Homo sapiens: one gene and its partners. The protein of the gene in region 2 purifies or fractionates together with the protein of the main gene of each other region. This does not show direct contact. Each region holds a gene or a part of one and is shown on either strand. Other genes may lie near its edges.

The links.
Region 1: the proteins of SSB (region 2) and SUPT16H purify together in Homo sapiens (affinity purification with mass spectrometry; 2 studies listed by BioGRID and IntAct, with this or other methods). This does not show direct contact.
Region 3: the proteins of SSB (region 2) and SART3 purify together in Homo sapiens (affinity purification with mass spectrometry; 2 studies listed by BioGRID and IntAct, with this or other methods). This does not show direct contact.

Annotation. Positions count from the first base shown.
Region 1 is NC_000014.9:21,370,510-21,374,164, reverse strand, and holds part of SUPT16H (FACT complex subunit SPT16), read left to right. Parts: intron 1-734; coding exon 735-827; intron 828-1,468; exon of another isoform or gene 1,469-1,696; intron 1,697-2,120; coding exon 2,121-2,291; intron 2,292-3,655. UniProt on the Homo sapiens protein: Component of the FACT complex, a general chromatin factor that acts to reorganize nucleosomes. The FACT complex is involved in multiple processes that require DNA as a template such as mRNA elongation, DNA replication and DNA repair.
Region 2 is NC_000002.12:169,805,315-169,808,969, forward strand, and holds part of SSB (lupus La protein), read left to right. Parts: intron 1-159; coding exon 160-263; intron 264-350; coding exon 351-525; intron 526-1,470; coding exon 1,471-1,578; intron 1,579-1,656; coding exon 1,657-1,757; intron 1,758-3,167; coding exon 3,168-3,239; intron 3,240-3,545; coding exon 3,546-3,588; intron 3,589-3,655. UniProt on the Homo sapiens protein: Binds to the 3' poly(U) terminus of nascent RNA polymerase III transcripts, protecting them from exonuclease digestion and facilitating their folding and maturation.
Region 3 is NC_000012.12:108,554,519-108,558,173, forward strand, and holds part of SART3 (spliceosome associated factor 3, U4/U6 recycling protein), read right to left. Parts: intron 1-3,655. UniProt on the Homo sapiens protein: U6 snRNP-binding protein that functions as a recycling factor of the splicing machinery. Promotes the initial reassembly of U4 and U6 snRNPs following their ejection from the spliceosome during its maturation.

The DNA of each region.
Region 1 (3,655 bases), on a different chromosome or scaffold from region 2:
AAAATTTCTGTGGCTGAACCAAAAAAGAAGGCATATGTAGATTTCTGCATAAATTATGACTCCTTGAAAGATTCTAAGATGAAGGTGGCTTATCTTTGAGAGTGCAAGATGATTTTGGAATATAAAAAATTAGTTTGGCCCAGGCATGGTGGCTTATGCCTGTAATTCCAGCACTTTGGGAGACCGAAGCAGGTGGATCACCTGAAGTTAGGAGTTCGAGACCAGCCTGACCCACATAGTGAAACCCTGTCTCTACTGAAAATAAAAAAATTAGCCAGGTGTGGTGGTGGGCACCTGTAATCCTAGCTACTGGGGAGGCTGAGGCAGGAGAATTGCTTGAACCCAGGAGGCGGAGGTTGCAGTGAGCCGAGATTGCACCATTGCATTCCAGCCTGGGCAACAAGAGTCAAACTCCATCTCAAAAATAAGTAATAAAATTTTAAAAAATAAAATATTTCTTTGAATTACACAGGACGTTTGTCACTGATCTGTGTTCCTGAACTATGAAACATAGATCTGGGGGCTAAGGAAAAATTTCTCTTGATATTTATCAACAATTAGCAAGTACTGTAAAAACAAAAAATAGAATAGCCGTAAGACTGCCAAACAGGCATGTACCTTAAACTTGAAATTTCTATCAGGAGAAAATTATGCCTGTCCTAGATAAATATTGAAGGCTGTATTCCTGTTTTGCTAGTGTGAAAAATTAAGTGATGATTACCCACTCTTTTCAGAAAGGAGAAGATGAGTATGCCAACGTTGATGCCATTGTTGTATCAGTGGGTGTTGATGAAGAAATTGTTTATGCCAAATCAACTGCCTTACAGGTGAGAGATTTACAGCAATTTTTAGCTCTTAGAGTTGTTGGATTATCTACTGCACTGTTCAGTATGGTAGCCACATTAAAACTTAAATTCCTGGCTGGCTGCGGTGGCTCATGCCTGTAATCCCAGCACTTTGGGAGGCCGAGGCAGGTGGATTGCTTGAGCCCAGGAGTTCAAGACCAGCCTGGACAACATGGCAAAACCCTGTCTTTACAAGAAATACAAAAAAATTAAGCAGATGTGGGGGTGTGCACCTGTAGTCCCAGCTACTCAGGAGGCTGAGATGGGAGGATGGCATGACCCCAGGAGGTAGAGGTTGCAGTAAGCCAAGATTGCACCATTGCACTCCAGCCTGGGCAACACAGTGAGACCCTGTCTCTTACTTTAAAAAATTTCAATTTCTCAGTCCCATCAGCTGTGTTTCTGGTACTCAGCAGTGGCTACCCCATATTGGACAGAGCAGATAAATGGTATTTTCACCATCACATAAAGTTCAATTGGATTTAGCAGTGATTTAAGACATAAGGAAAAAGAAGTATTAATATCAGTATGGATTTAGCTGCTATAACACAAAAACCTAAGTAACAGTGAGTTAAACAAAATATTCTTTTCCTTATGTATAGTCTTCAGGGACCCAGGCTTTTTCCAGTTCTCTGTTCTGCCACCCAAAGAACATAGCCCTCTTGCACGTGGTACAGAATGGCTTCTAGAACTCCAGGTGTTTCATCTACATTCCAAGCAAAAAGAGACAGAGAAGAAAACAGGAGGCCACCTTTTCTTTTTAAGAAGACTTGCTTGAAGCTCCACACACTACCATTTTTTACCTATTGGCCAAAATTTGATCCTAATGACCATACTTACCTGAAAGGAAGGTAAAATATCAGTTCTTTGAGAAGGAGAAATGAATAATTGGTAGGGAACTGGTAATTGAGGAGGTAATAACGCAGGGTTCTGTATCACTCTGTCCCTTGTTTTATGCATTTCTGTATCACTAAACATTGATATACTTCCTATAAACACAAATCGTTTAACTGATTTGATGGTTTTAATTATAGAAAGTTCAAGCATATAAACGTAGAGAAAATAATACATTGAACCCCATTGTCCTGTTCTAATAAATTGTCGACTCTTGGCCGATCTTGCTTAATTTGTATCCACTCCAGACTCCCCAGCCTGATTACCTTGGAGTTAATTTCAGACATGTTATTTTTGTCTATAAGTATTTCTGTATATCTATATGAGTCCATTAATTTTTGTATCTGTAAATACCGTTGTCACTGTTGTCTTTTTCCATAGACATGGCTCTTTGGTTATGAACTAACTGATACTATCATGGTCTTTTGTGATGACAAAATCATCTTTATGGCCAGCAAGAAAAAAGTGGAGTTCTTGAAACAGATTGCCAACACTAAGGGCAATGAGAATGCTAATGGAGCCCCTGCCATCACACTGCTAATACGAGAAAAGGTCAGGATTAATAAAGAATGTGTCATAAATGTGGAAGAATCTTCAAAAGGGATGAACAGAAATGCCTTATAGGAGTTTGAAAGAATGCGCAGGGGAAATTATAGGTGGCTGTGGTTGTAATTACAAAGTTCTGTCACGTCTTCATTGTTAGGAGGAAAAGAATTCAATAATCCTATCAGTTCTGCTGTAAAACAAATGAGCTATGAAATTCTGGTGAACACTGATTTTATGTCTCCATTCTTGAGGACACTGTTAGTTTGTTTTCATCTGTATGCCTTGATTAGAGCAAATAACCTTAAATATCCTTAAGGAAACTTAGATATACATCATTTCCAGTTTTTATCAAATGTGAATTTTTTTTGTCATACTGCCCACCTAACATGGGATGTTTTCTCAGAATATTGTTCACTTATGTGTTTGAGTTTCTTAACTGTTTCTGAAGAAAAAGGATAGTTGTATCAGACGTGGTGGCACACACCCGTAGTCCCAGCTGCTCAGGAGGCTGAGATGGGAGGATTGCTTGAGCCCAGGTGTTTGAGACCAGCCTGGGCAACGTGAGACCCCTTCTCTTAAAAAAAGGAATAGTCTGGTCAACTTACGGCAGCACTTTCACCTGAGTATATAAAAATATCTAAAGAAATGTTTTGCTCACTTTTGATATATTACAATCTTCCTTAAAGATGGGAAGGCATCTTACAGGTAGGCCAGGCATGGTGGCTCATGGCTGTAATCCCAATACTTTGAGAGGCCGAGGCGAGCACTTGAGCGCAGGAGTTCCAGATGAGCCTGGGCAACATGACAAAACCCCATCTCTACAAAAAATACAAAAATTATTCAGGAAGGCTGGGTGCAGTGGATCACTTGAGGTCTGGAGTTCAAGACCATCCTGGGCAAGATAACAAAACCCCATCTCTACTAAAAATATAAAAAATTAGCCGGGCATGTTGTCACACACCTGTAATCCCAGCTGCTCGGGAGGCTGAGGCATGAGAATCACTTGAACCCGGGAGGCTGAGGTTGCAGTGAGTGTAGATTGCGCCGCTGCACTCCAGCCTGGCAACAGAGCAAGTCTGTCTCAAAAAAAAAAAAAAATTTATCCAGGCATGGTGGTATGAACCTGTAGTCCCAGCTACTTGGGAGGCCGAGGCAGGAGGATTGCTTGAACTTGGGAGTTCGAGGTTGCAGTAAGCTGTGATCACACCACTGTGCTCTACCCTGGGGGTAGTAGAACAAGACCCTGTCTCTTTAAAAGTAAAAAGTAGGTGGGGATGGGAGGAGAATTAATTTTTTCCGTAGTTTAGAATATTATTCTACCTGTTACTGGTAAAACGTGTCTAATGAACTGGTAAAACATATGTGTCTTT
Region 2 (3,655 bases):
TTTTTGCTAATTTGTAAACATTATTGTATATTTGGGGAAAGTGTTTTGCCTTTTGTAACTTATGTATTTTTAAATAACAGAACTTGGTACTGTAGAGTAATGTCAGGATTGGAGTCCATATTATACAGTGTTCTGAAATACATTGTAATTATCTCACAGTATTATTTTGGCGACTTCAATTTGCCACGGGACAAGTTTCTAAAGGAACAGATAAAACTGGATGAAGGCTGGGTACCTTTGGAGATAATGATAAAATTCAACAGGTAACAAGCTTTTAAAAATAATCTTTAGGTTTTCTGTTTACAATGAGTGCTACTGCTGAGTCTTATGTTTTTATATGTACTCTTCAGGTTGAACCGTCTAACAACAGACTTTAATGTAATTGTGGAAGCATTGAGCAAATCCAAGGCAGAACTCATGGAAATCAGTGAAGATAAAACTAAAATCAGAAGGTCTCCAAGCAAACCCCTACCTGAAGTGACTGATGAGTATAAAAATGATGTAAAAAACAGATCTGTTTATATTGTAAGTGGGCCTGTAATGCATTTAAATATCTTACATTTATTTAGAAAGTAAAGTACGGAAGAATAAGGGCTCAGGAATCACAGCCTCACTAATTACTGTATGTCCTTTCGTAATATTCTTAACCTAAGTTTCTTTTGTTTTGTTTTGTTTTGAGACAGTCTCATCCTGTTGCTCACGTTGGAGTGCAGTGGTGTGATCATGGCCCACTGCAGTCTTGACCTCCTGGGCTCAAGTGATCCTCCCACCTCAGCCTCCTGAGTAGCTGGGACTACAGGTGCATGCTACCATGCCTGGCAAAAAATTTTTTGTAGAGACGGGTCTTCCTGTGTTGCCCAGGCTGGTGTCAATCTCCTGGGCTCAAGTGATCCAATCACCTTGACCTCCCAAAGTGCTGGGATTACAGGTGTGAGCCACCATGCCTAGTCCTAAGTTTTATCTTCATAAACGTGGATATTTTCTACCTTGTAGAACTGTTGTGAGAATTAAATGAAAAAAAATATATATACCATTGGATGAAATCTTTGACATATTCTAAGCACCTATTGCCTATTAGCTGTTCTTATTTATCAGCAGCTAAACTTGATTGCAGTTTTCTTTAGTGTATTTTTAAATAGTTTTTTATTACGGAAAATTTCAGATACATATATAAATAGATTCAATAATGTACCATCACCAGCTTTAGTAGTTAATAACAGAACATGCAAATCATCTTGTTTTATTTCTGCTTCAACTGAATTATTTTGAAGCAAATACCAGATGAATCACTTTTATTGTACTGGAGAGTAGTGGCTCCTAAACAAGGCTGTTAAGTGATTAACAAAGAGAAATAGAGATAGATAGGTATATCCTGGGTTCATTTCAAGAAAAAATGAATCAAATTCTCTCCAATTGTTTATCTGAGAAGTCATTATTTGTTATTTGTACATTTCTTCCCACTCTTCACAGAAAGGCTTCCCAACTGATGCAACTCTTGATGACATAAAAGAATGGTTAGAAGATAAAGGTCAAGTACTAAATATTCAGATGAGAAGAACATTGCATAAAGCATTTAAGGTATGATAATACAGACTTTTTCTAGTTTTAAAATATATGGGACATAACTTAAAAAAATATTTTCCTTCCTTTTTACAGGGATCAATTTTTGTTGTGTTTGATAGCATTGAATCTGCTAAGAAATTTGTAGAGACCCCTGGCCAGAAGTACAAAGAAACAGACCTGCTAATACTTTTCAAGTAAGTCTTTTTGCTGATGTTTCTCCTGGCCTTTTACTTATATGGACACACACTAGGGTAAGGAGCATGGAAGTAGTATCCCCTGAAAGGCCAATATTCTTAGTATCTTTAGATGACCTTTGAGAAATGCTTGATATTTGTTCAGTGAGAACTATAGTCTTTTGAGACTATAAGAAAAGTGTTCATTAGTACCTTTTCACTGTTAACAATTTTTTTTTCTTTTTCTTTTTTTTTTGAGACAAGTTTCACTCTTGTCACCCAGGCTGGAGTGCAGTGGTGTGATCTTGGCTCCCTGCAACCTCTGCTTCCTGGGTTCAAGCGATTCTCCTGCCTCAGCCTCCTGAGTAGCTGGGACTACAGGCGCGTGCCACCTCGTCCACCTAATTTTTGTATTTTTAGTAGAGATGGAGTTTCACCATGTTGGCCAGGCTGGTCTTGAACTCCTGACTTCAGATCATCCGCCTGCCTTGGCCTCCCAAAGTGTTGGGACTACAGGCGTGAGCCACTGCGCCCAGCCACTGTTAGCCATTATTAAAGGAGGTTATGTTTTAATACTGATTTTGCATCTAAAACTTTTGATCAGGCTGGGTATTAAAATTTGGTCTTTTGTGTGTTTGGAAAATATATCAATGCAGTTTTCATCTTATTTTTCATAGCCTATATGTCTTTTTTTTTTTTTTTTTTTTTTTACAGTACAAAGGATTTGAGATTTGGGTCACATTCTTTGTGAATGTGTGTCTGTCTAAGTGTCTAAAAATGGGGATGAACCAGAGCATTTTCATGATAAAATTAGGTGTAGGGCCATAGTTCCCTACTTTAGAAGACTGTGCATTAGTCTTCTAAATGGTATATACTAAACTTGATTGACTTAGAGATGCACTGTGATGGGTCATAGTATCAGTGTTAAATCCTCAAAAATTATTTAACATGATTTTCATATGTTATTGTTGGATCTTGGGGATTTTAGAATTTTCTCCTTTTGTGGAATTAACACTATAGAAAACTGCAATATTATTTGCATGACTTCTGATACACTTTTTTCCCTATACATGAATGATAAATGGAAATCAACATGAAATTGCTAATGGATAGGGGGTTTCTTTTTGGGGTCATGAAAATGTTCTGAAATTAGTAGTGATGGTTGTACAACTGAATATACTAAAAAACATTCAAGGTACACTTTAAAAGAGTGAATTTTGTGGCACATGGATTTTTTCCTCAGTAAAGCTGTTATATAAAAAAACATGAGAGAGTAAATTCCTTGGCATATTTTGAATTTTTAGTTGATGATTATGTTGATAGTAAGCGTGTGCAACATTCATTGCTGTGCCATGTCTTAAGTTATTCAAAATAATCTGCAGTCTTAACTTTGTTCTCGTGAACTTAGCCTCTGTACTGTGTGTTCTTTAGGGACGATTACTTTGCCAAAAAAAATGAAGAAAGAAAACAAAATAAAGTGGAAGCTAAATTAAGAGCTAAACAGTAAGTATGTTGAACTAATCACGACATAATTTGAATTCCTTAAAGCTCTGACAGAAATATAGCTGGTGAGCTCTGAAATAGTGGCAGTAGACCTTTCTCTTTGCTAGTGAAACACTGAGATCTTAAGCTGCCTTGACAATCTCAGGGCCAAATTGCATTGCAGTCTAGCATTGGACGATCAAAAAAACCTAAGGACTTCTGGCTTTGGTTAAGTAAGTTTAGTGATCATGATTGGTTAACTTTATTAGGACTTAATTTTCTTATATAGTAAATAGAAGTATGTTATAATTATATTTTTATTTGTAGGGAGCAAGAAGCAAAACAAAAGTTAGAAGAAGATGCTGAAATGGTAAGTATATATTACTGCTATCTAGTACATCTGTAATTCGAAGTTAAATGAATAGCTTTTAAGTCTG
Region 3 (3,655 bases), on a different chromosome or scaffold from region 2:
GAAATAGCATTTGATTAAAACATCCATTCATGAGTCAAAATTAAGAATTAGCAAACTAGGAATAGAAAGGCACTTCCTTAACCTGATTTTTAAAATCTGCAATAAATATATTTTAATAACATATTTATATATTTATTATATTGTTTATTATATATTTATATATTTATATTTAGTAAATTTAATAATACATTAAAATTCCTTTTAAAAAACACAAAAAACTTCCCAGTATTGCCTTCTATTTAACCCTGTACTGGAGGTCTGGGGTTTTAACAATGAGACAAGGAAAAGAAACAGATATAGAGAAAAGAATGAGAACTGTTAATTATGGTCAGATGATATCAATGTATAGTAAACCAAAACTCATCTACAAACAAATCATTTGGAAATAATAAACAAGATTAGCAAAGTGACAAGCAATAAGAGCAATGTATAAAAATCAATTATATACAAAGAGACAAATACTGTATGATTCCACTTATATGAAGTATCTAGTCAAATTCATAGAGACAGAAAACTACAATGGTAGTTATCAGGGGATTGGGAAGGAAGGAGAAGGAGAGCTGTTTAATTGGTAGAGTTGTATATATGCAAATGAAAACTTTGGAGATCTGCTTCACAACAATGTGACTATACTTAACACTACTGAACCATACACTTAAGAATAAGATAGCAAAGTTTACGTTATATGTTTTTTACAATAAAAAAATTACATTTCTATAAACCAGCAAGCTTTAAAATGTAATTTTAAATAGGATAGCATAAACATCAAGCACTATAAAGTACCTAGAAATACATCTAACAAAAGATGTGTGAGACCTCTATGGCAAAATGTTTTTAAACTTGATTGAAAGATATTAAAGACTTGGCCGGGGGCGGTGGCTCACACCTGTAATCCCAGCACTGTGGGAGGCCGAGGCAGGCAGATCACTTGAGTCCAGGAATTCAAGACCAGCCTGGGCAACAGGGCAAAACCCCGTCTCTACAAAAACTGTAAAAATTAGCTGAGTCTGGTGGCACATGCCTGTGGTCCCAGCTACTCGAAAGGCTGAGGTGAAAGGATCGCTTCAGCCCAGCAGGCGGAGGTTGCAGTGTGCTGAGATCATGCCACTGTACTCCAGCCTGGGAAACAGAGCAGGACCATGTCTCAAAAATAGAAAGAATATTCAATACCTAGACGAATGGAGTTATATGCATGTTCTGGGTTAGAATAATCATTATGGCAAAGACGTCAATTCTCCCCTAAATAATCCATAAATTCAATGCAATTCAAATAAAAAAACCAACAGGGTTTTTCACAGACCTTGACAAAATAATTCTAAAATTTATATGAAAGAGCCAAAACACCCTGCAAGGAAAGAAAAAAAGCAGGTAGGAGGATTTGTCTTACCAGATAGCAAGCCTTAGCAATAAGTTAATCAGTGGAATTGGCACAGGATAGACAAACTGAAGAGAGAGCCCAAAACAGACCCATGCAGTTGAAAAACACTATGGCTCAGGTGGCACTTGCTGTTTCAGCTAAAATAAATTCACAACCTATGACTATGACCCCCAGGTTGAAAAACAGTGACTTTGAGAAACTCTCTTTTTTTTTTTTTGAGTCAGGGTCTCACTCTTACCCAGGCTGGAGTGCCGTGGCAGTCACAAATCACTGCAGCCTCAAATTCCCAGGCTCAAGTGATCCTCCCGCCTCAGCCTCTTGAGTAGCTGCTACTACAAGCTCATGCCACCACACATAGCTAAATGTTTTAAATTTATTTTTTGTAAACACAGGGTCTCACCATCTTGCCCAGTCTGGTCTCAAACTCCTGGGCTCAAGGGATCATCCTGCCTCAGCCTCCCAAAATGCTAGGACTACAGGTGTGAGCCACTGCATCTGGTGAGAAACTCTTGTACATGATGTGAACTGCTTTGTATTTATCAAATTACATGCCAAAAGATAATAATCAATTACAGATAAGAACATGATCTCTAAGTTTTAAATCTTAAGACTTTTAGCAATGTTCTCCTGCTTATGATTCATAAAACCTGAGAAGCTGAACTCATCCGATGATCACACGATAGGCTGAAAAGCACTGGACCAGATCAGGACACAAGTGTTCTAATCCCCACTTGTTCTGTTTCCTCATCTGTACCATGAAAGAGCTGGGCTAAAGCTCTGGTTCTTAAATGGGCTATCATGACACACTGATGTTTCAAAATCACCTATCAAGTGTGTCACACAAAGTAACCGCAGTTTGGGATGTTTGAGAAGTGAAGTTTGAGAAGGATACACTTTCTTCATTAAAGAACATTCAAGGCTCTCCCCACCACATCACCAGTCTGAACTCAATAGAGTGTGCTTGCGGAGCACAAACAGGAGTGGGAGAGCACTTGCTAGTCAGTGTCACGAATATCTATGCATGCAAGTGCCCCTCACATGAACACCATGTGTGGATCAGCAGAAGAAAAAGGTATAAAAGTCGCTAAAGTCAAGAAGCTGACTTTTAAGGTGTGGCTTTTGGTGTAAACTTCTGATTTTTAGGGTAAAATGATGAAGATACTATATGTGGACAAGTACTCTGAAAGTACATATATTAAATACATACTGAAATGCACTTAAAAGAGCTATTTCCACATAGTTCAATCTATACTGATAAATGAGTACATATGCTGGTCTATTCTGGTCTTAGAACATCATTAATGACATAGTTTTTTTTTTTTTTTTTTTTTTTTTGAGGTGGAATCTTGCTCTGTCACCCAGGCTGGAGTGCAGTGGTGTGATCTCAGTTCACTGCAACCTCTGCCTCCCGGGTTCAGGCGATTCTCCTGCCTCAGCCTCCCGAGTAGCTGGGATTAACAACATAGATGCTTTAAAGGAAACTTAACCAATCACAAAATGATCTGCTAACTGATTTAACTCCCTAGCAATGTGAAAAATGTGTTATACCTAGCTGTACTAGAATGGGGGAGAAATAATAGAGAGGACTGATGGAAAGAAAACAACTGGTGCAATCAAAGGCAGGGAAGGGAGAATGGAGCAGCACCTATTATGCGCCAAACTGTGCCAGGCGCTTTACGCACATTGTGCCATGCCCCACAACAGTCCCATGAGGAAAGCACTATTACAACCTTCATTTTACTAACTGGGACACCCAAGACTCTGCGAGCTGAAATAACTTGTACAAGGCCTTTCCACTACTCAATGGAAGGCTTGGGTTCAGGGTTGCAAAGCCATAGTCTCCGTACTGCTGCACTGACAAATCTGCCGAAGCCACCATGAAGTGCCACTTTTAATTTCAGCGCACAAACACATATAATGGAAAATATTTGCTTTTGTTAGACAGATACCACAGCAAACTGCCAGCTACCATAAAATATAATCAAGGCCACGTGCAGTAGCTTGCGCCTGTGATCCGAGCACTTTGGGAGGCTGAGGCAGGAGCATCACTTCAGCTCAGGAATTCAGCACCTGCCTGGGCAACATAGTAAGAACCCATCTCTACAAAAAAAAAATATTTTTAATTAGCCAGGCATGGGGGTGCATGCCTGTAGTCCGAGATACTTTGGAGGATGAGCTGGGAGGATCACTTGAGCCTGGGAGGTCCTAGCTGCAGTGAGCCATGATCACACCACTACTCCAGCATGGGCAAGAGTGAGATGCTCTCAAAAAAAAAAA